Linked DNA regions of Homo sapiens. The protein of the gene in region 1 interacts with the protein of each later gene in a pairwise test. Each region holds a gene or a part of one and is shown in the gene's direction. Other genes may lie near its edges.

Region 1 (3,500 bases):
AGGCATGGCAGTGCGGAGCTGTGGTCTCGGCTGCTTGGGAGGCTCAGGTGGGAGGATCACTTGAGCCTCAGAGTTCCAGGCTGCAGTGAGCTGTAATTGCACCATTGCACTTTAGCCTGGGCAACATAGTGAGACGCTGTTTAAAAAAAAAAAGTGGCTGGGCGCAGTGGCTGACACCTGTAATCCCAGCACTTTGGGAAGCCAAGGCGGGCAGATCACGAGGTCAGGAGATCAAGATCATCCTGGCTAACACGGTGAAACCCCGTCTCTACTAAAAATACAAAAAATTAGCCAGGCGTGGTGGCGGGCACCTGTAGTCCCAGCTACTTGGGAGGCTGAGGCAGGAGAATGGCATGAACCTGGGAGGCGGAGCTTGCAGTGAGCCGAGATTGCACCACTGCACTCCAGCCTGGGCAACAGAGTGAGACTCCATCTAAAAAAAAAAAAAAAGAAAGAAAGAATAAAACTGTGAAAGGAAATACAAATATTTAGCAATAGGTATTTTACCCAATTTATAAATGAGTTCTTACGTTTTAATGAAAATTCAAAATAGATAACTCAAATTTAAAAAATAACAGTATAAATAATGTACGGTATAAAAGGTTTCATATTACTTTAAGGCATGTAATTTATTACCTTCATATTCAGACCTTCATCATTCACCAGTTTCTTTTTTTCTTATTCAACTTTTATTTTAGGTTTAGAGGCTGCATGTGCAGGATTGTTACATGGGTCAAATATCACTGGTGGGACTGGGTGTGCAAATGATTTTATCACCCAGGTGGTGAACATAGTAACCAATAGGTAGTTTTTAGACCCTCACCCTATTTTCACCATTCATCTTCAAGTATGACCAGTGTTTATTTAACTCTTTGTGTCTGTGTGTACTCATCGTTTAGCTCCCACTTATAAGTGAGAACATGCAGTATTTGGTTTTCTGCCACTGTGTTAATTTGATTAGGATAATGGCCTCCAACTACATCCATGTTGCTGCAAAGGGCGTGATTTTGCTTTTTTCTATGGCTGTGTAATTGTCCCTGGATGTATGTGTACCACATATTCTTTATCCATTTTACTGTTGCTGGGCATATAGGTTAATTCTATGACTTTGCTATTGTGAATAGTGCTGCAGTGAATATACACATGCATGTGTCTTTTTGGTAGAATGATTCAGATTCCCTTGGATATATATACCCAGTAATAGGATTGCTGGGTTGAATGGTAGTTCTGTTTTAAGGTCTTTGAGAAATCTCCAAAATGCTTTCCACAGTGGCTGAACTAATTTACATCCCCTCCAGCAGCGTGTAAGCATTCCCTTTTCTCTGCAACCTCGCAAACATCTGTTATTTTCTGACTTTTTTGTAATAGTTATTCTGACTGGATGGTTTTGATTTGCATTTCTCTAATGATTAGAGATGTTGAGCATAATTTTTCACACACTTCTTGACCATGTGTATGTCTTCTTTGGAGAAGTGTCTGTTCATATTCTTGCCCATTTTTTTATGGAGTTGTTTGCCATTTTTCCTTGTTGATTAGTTCAAGTTTCTTATAGATCCTGGATATTAAACCGTTGTCAGATACACAGATAGCAAATATTTTCTTGTATTCTGTAGGTTGTCTGTTTACTCTGTTGACAGTTTATCTTGTTGTGTAGAGGCTCTTTAGTTTGATTAGGTCCCACTTATTTATTTTTGTTTTTGTTGCGATTGCTTTTGGAGACTTTGTCATGAAATATTTACCAAGGATTATGTCCATAATGGTATGTCCTAGGTTTTCCTCTAGGGTTTTTATACTTACAGGTTTTACATTTAAGTCTTTTTGTTTGTTTGTTTGTTTGTTTTGAGACGGAGTCTCACTCTGTCGCCCAGGCTGGAGTGCAGTGGCGTGATCTCGGCTCACTGCGAGCTCTGCCTCCCGGGTTCATGCCATTCTCCTGCCTCAGCCTCCCAAGTAGCTGGGACTACAGGCGCCTGCCACCACGCCTGGCTAGTTTTTTGTATTTTTAGTAGAGACGGGGTTTCACCATGTTAGCCAGGATGGTCTTGATCTCCTGACCTCGTGATCTGCCCACCTCGGCCTCCCAAAGTGCTGGGATTACAGGTGTGAGCTACCATGCCTGGCCACATTTAAGTCTTTAATCGATGTTTTTTTTCTTAATTTTTTTATTTTTAATTTTTGTGGGTACATACTAAGTATGTATATTTATGGGGTACAGGAGATATTTTGATACAGGGATGCAATTTGTAATAATTACATCATGGAGAATGGGGTGTCCATCCCCTCAAGCATTTACCCTTTGTATTACAAATAATCCAATTATACTTAGTTGCTTTAAAGTGTACAATTAAATTATTGCTGACTATAATCATCCTGTTGTGCTGTCACATGCTAGGTCTTACTTATTCTTTCTGTTTTTTAAATACGCATTAACCATCCCCACCTCTTCCCTAGTCCCCCTGACTACACTTCCCAACCTCTGGTAACCATCCTTTGACTCATGTCCATGAGTTCAGTTGTTTTGATTTTTAGATCCCACAAATAAGTAAGAACTTGTGCTGTTTGTCTTTCTGTGCCTGGCTTATTTCACTTAGCTTAATGACTTCTAGTTCCACCCATGTTATTGCAGATGACAGGCTCTCATGCTTTCTTATGGCTGAATAGTTCTCCACTGTGTGTATGTACATTTTCTTTATGCATTCATCTGTTGATGGACACTTAGGTTGTTTCCAAATTTTGGCTATCGTAAACAGTGCTACAACAAACGAGAGTGTGGATATCTCTTTGACATACTGGTTTCCTTTCTTTTGGCTATATACCTAGCAGGAGGATTGCTGGATCATATGGCAGGTTTCTTTTTAGTTTTTTTTTGAAAGACCTTCAAACTGTTCTCCATAGTAGTTGTACTAGTTGACATTCCCACCAGCTGTGTACAAGGATTCTCTTTTTTTCCATATCCTTGCCAGCATTTGTTACCTTTTTTTGTCTTCTTTAACTTTCTTGGGGACATACAAGGTGTATATATCTATGGATTACATGAGATGTTTTGATACAGGTATGCAATGTGAAATAAGCACCTCATGGAGAATGGGGTATCAGGCATTTATCCTTTGAGTTACAATCAAATTACACTCTTTAAGTTACGTTAAAATGTACAATTAAGTTATCATTGACTGTAGACACCTTGTGCTATCAAATAGTATGTCTTTTTTATTCTTTCTAAGTATTTTTTTTTTGTCAGCCATTAACTGTCTCCACCTCTCCTCCAGCTCGCCACTACTTTTCCCCACCTCTGGTAACCATCCTTCGACTCTCTATGCCCATGAGTTCAGTTGTTTTGATTTTTATATCCCACAGATAAGTGAGAACATGCGATATTTGTTTTTCTGTGCCTGGCTTATTTTGCTTAACATCATGATCTCCAGTTCCATCCGTGTTGTTGCTGCAAACGACTGGATCTCATTCTTTTTTTTTTTTTTTTTTTTGGCAAAATAGTACCCCAG
Region 2 (3,500 bases), on another chromosome or scaffold:
TCTGCCCGCCTCGGCCTCCCAATGTGCTGGGATTACAGGCATGAGCCACCATGCCCAGCCTAGTAGCATATGTTTTTCTAAAGCAAATCCATGCCATTTCTAGGATGTGTGCTAGGTCTGTGGACATTTCTGGCCTCTCTAAAATTTCTTTACCATTTTTTCTCCAAAATTATCTTTCAGTTAAAATATAGCATACCCAGAAATCCTGGAAAAGAAAGATATCTAACTGCTTTTTAAAAATTACTGATATATAATTTTTTAAATGTTGTATTTAAAAAATACCAAATTAAATGTTTTTAAGGATCCTGTTTGTTTTCAATTTCACTTAGAAAATGATGCTATAGTTTAGCTTGAAATAATGGTCTAATTTTTTCCTCTTTGGCAAGATAATTTTAGATACTGAAAAAGCACAAAATAAATCTCCTTCTAGACTTGATTCCTTTGTCAAGACTTTGGAAGCAGACAAAGATCACTATAAGAGTGAAGCTCAACATTTGAGAAAGATGATGCGAAGTAGGTCTAAAAGTCCAAGACGCCCATCACCAACTGCCCGGGTAGGTTTTATAAACTTACAAATATTTTGGAGTTTGTTGCCCAGACACTGGCTTTTATTCTTTGTTTTACCTAATTTGAAAATAATTTGTTTTGATTTGCTGTGAATTGCTGTTTCAAAGGGGTTGAGAGACAGAGGTCTCTTTGATGGCACAGTAGACTACTGATATTGGTTCTTTATCCTCAGCATAATTAGCACTTGGGAGGTAATCAGGCAAATGTGGAATAATTTGGAATGAAGCTGTTTTAAAAAGATGTGGTTTTTAAACTTATTTTTTATAATTTCCTTTCATTATATAGTCTTATTTTCTTAAATAGAAATTGGGCACTACCATCAGTAGCACCTTTCTATCAGTACTATATATCAAAGAAGATTTCAAATTCCTTATATAATTATAGGGTGCAAACTGTGATGTAGAACTTTTGAAGACAACAACAAGAGATCGTGAAGAACTTAAATGCATGCTGGAAAAATATGAGCGCCATTTGGCAGAAATTCAGGGTAATGTCAAGGTTCTTAAATCTGAGAGAGACAAGATCTTCCTTCTTTATGAACAGGTAAACTTACAAAAAACAAATTATATAAGTAATAACATTGAGTTCTAGAGTTATGTAATTCTTCTTTGAGTTTTATGAGACTGCTTAAACCTGCAAATCAAGTTAATCTAACATTTGGGGATTACATATGTTTTTAAGATATTCTTAATGAAATGTAGTACATTTCCAATACAGTAGGTATGTGAGTACACACGTATGTTATCCCCATAGCCAAAAATCATACACATGTATAAAAATAGTCTTATTTTTGGAATAAGATATGAAGAAACCGTTAAATGATAAGTTGTTATGAGTTCAAGGTAAAAAGATCAAATCCTGACCTTTTTACCTTGAACTTGCCACACCTTATCACATCACTTTAGGAACTTTTATATAATTTGCTTAATTTTAGAGAATAAAAGAAGTATGTAGTTTATCTCTGCTTTCTAGCTTAGAATTGCATAGCTTTTATTAATCAAATACCTTCTTTAACCCAACAAGTATTAAATCCTATAAATCACCCATATAACTTCTTTTAAAAGTATCACAATTTTTTAACAAATTATAGCTACTATACACAGGGTTCTAGGCTCACTACTCTAAGGGATAGAAAAATGATAAGATGCTGACCATGTTTTCCTATAAATTTACAGTCTAGTTAGGGAGATAAAGTATATTGTATTTATTGATTTTTATTAAGTGGTCTAGAAGATATTATAAGAAACAAAAGAAGTGGGCATTTTTAGATATGGTGATCAAGGAAATCTTTATTAAAAGATACAAAGTGTGAGCCCTGAAAAATGAATGGAGTTTCTATTACCCTGAAAGGGGCTAGAAGGAACAATCCAAACTAAAGGAATGGTATGAGGCAAAGGATAAAGGTAGGAAAATCAGCAGATAAATAAATTGGTTTAAGACTAGAATAGAGGGTATGTGTCAGTGGAGAAGGGAGAGAGCTAAGACTTGAAAGGTAAGATTGCACTAGAGCAGGAATCAATATACTTTTTCTGTAAGGCCCAGACAAAAAATATCTTCTGCTTTGCAAGCCATGTGGTCTCTGTTGTAACTAATCAGCCCTATTGTTGTAGGGTGAAAGCAGCTTTGGACAATACATAAATGAATAACTTTGGCTGTATTACAGTAAAACTTTATGGATACTGAAATTTGAATTTCACATCATTTTTACTTGTTTTAAAATACTCTTTTGATATTTTCCCCAACCATTTAAAAATGCAAAAATATTTCTCCACTTACAGACCTACAGGAGGCAGGCTAGATGTGGCCTGTGAGTTATATATAGCTTGCTGACTTCTGGACTAAATGGTACAGGCTGTTCAATGGGCCTTATATGGGGTTTATATTTTGCTTCATAAGCAACAAACAATCTTTTTTTTTTAAAGGCAGGCAAAATATGAACAAAGTATCATTTTTACAATTTTACAATTTTAACCTTATGGCAAATTTTTATTTCTCACATAATCTTTCTATACTGTCTTCTTATTTAACAATTTCTCCTTTGAGAGAATTGATGGAGGGAGAGACCATGGACTCCTCTTTAGAAGGCTGTTACACTAGTGCACATATAAGGCATTAAGGGACTAAGCAAGGGTGTTTCAATGGAGATAAATATAGGGACAGATGCAAAAGACCCTGTGAAGGAAGATTTGACATGATTTGCTTTTAGGAAGAAGGAGGGTTGCATGACAGTGACTAAAATTCTGTCTTGAATGACTCAGCAATGTGGTAATAAAATAAAAAATAGGAGAGTCATTGGTGGTTTGAGGAAAAAGATGTGAGTTTGTTTTTAGACAGAGTAAGATAATGATAGCACACTCAGGTCGTAATTGCCATCAGACTGTAAGAAATGTGGGACTGGAGTAGAGAGAGGCAAGAGTTAAATAGTTAGCTTTGGAAGTCATCTGCTTAGAGGTGAGCTTCGAGCCTTCAGAGTGGATGAAGTCTCTGAATGAGAAAACTGTACATAGAGGAGCAGAAACGTTAAGTTATAATATTCAAGATGCAGAAGGGAACCTTTGAAAGAGACAAAGATGACAGACAGCTAGGGAGGAACAATGTTAAAAGGGAGGAAGGAATCTCAAGAAGAAGGATGTTGTGAGCAGCAACAGACCACTGAAATATCAAGGAGAACAGGAACTGAGAAAAGACCATTATATTTGGTTAGGTCTTTAGTTGAAATTCCACAGAAGGTGGGAGGGTGGGAGCCAGGTTGTTCTGGGGTGATAGAATGGATGGTAAGGAACCATTGGCAATAGTTATAGACCATGGGACTTTTTTTTTTTAATGTGTCGCAGGAAGAAGAGACATAGGATGGTAAATTGGTCAGCAGGATCAAGTGACAGGTTTTCAAGATAAGGGAGCACTGTACATGACTGAAGGCAGGGGAGAAAGTG

Evidence for each region. Proteins that work in one complex are often made in the same cells at the same time.
Region 2: the proteins of ZNF670 (region 1) and TSGA10 interact in binary tests that used the Homo sapiens proteins (3 or more experiments, as listed by UniProt).

Annotation. Positions count from the first base shown.
Region 1 is NC_000001.11:247,068,812-247,072,311, reverse strand, and holds part of ZNF670 (zinc finger protein 670), read left to right. Parts: intron 1-3,500. UniProt on the Homo sapiens protein: May be involved in transcriptional regulation.
Region 2 is NC_000002.12:99,106,443-99,109,942, reverse strand, and holds part of TSGA10 (testis-specific gene 10 protein), read left to right. Parts: intron 1-386; coding exon of another isoform or gene 387-503; coding exon 504-554; intron 555-951; coding exon 952-1,110; intron 1,111-3,500. UniProt on the Homo sapiens protein: Plays a role in spermatogenesis. When overexpressed, prevents nuclear localization of HIF1A.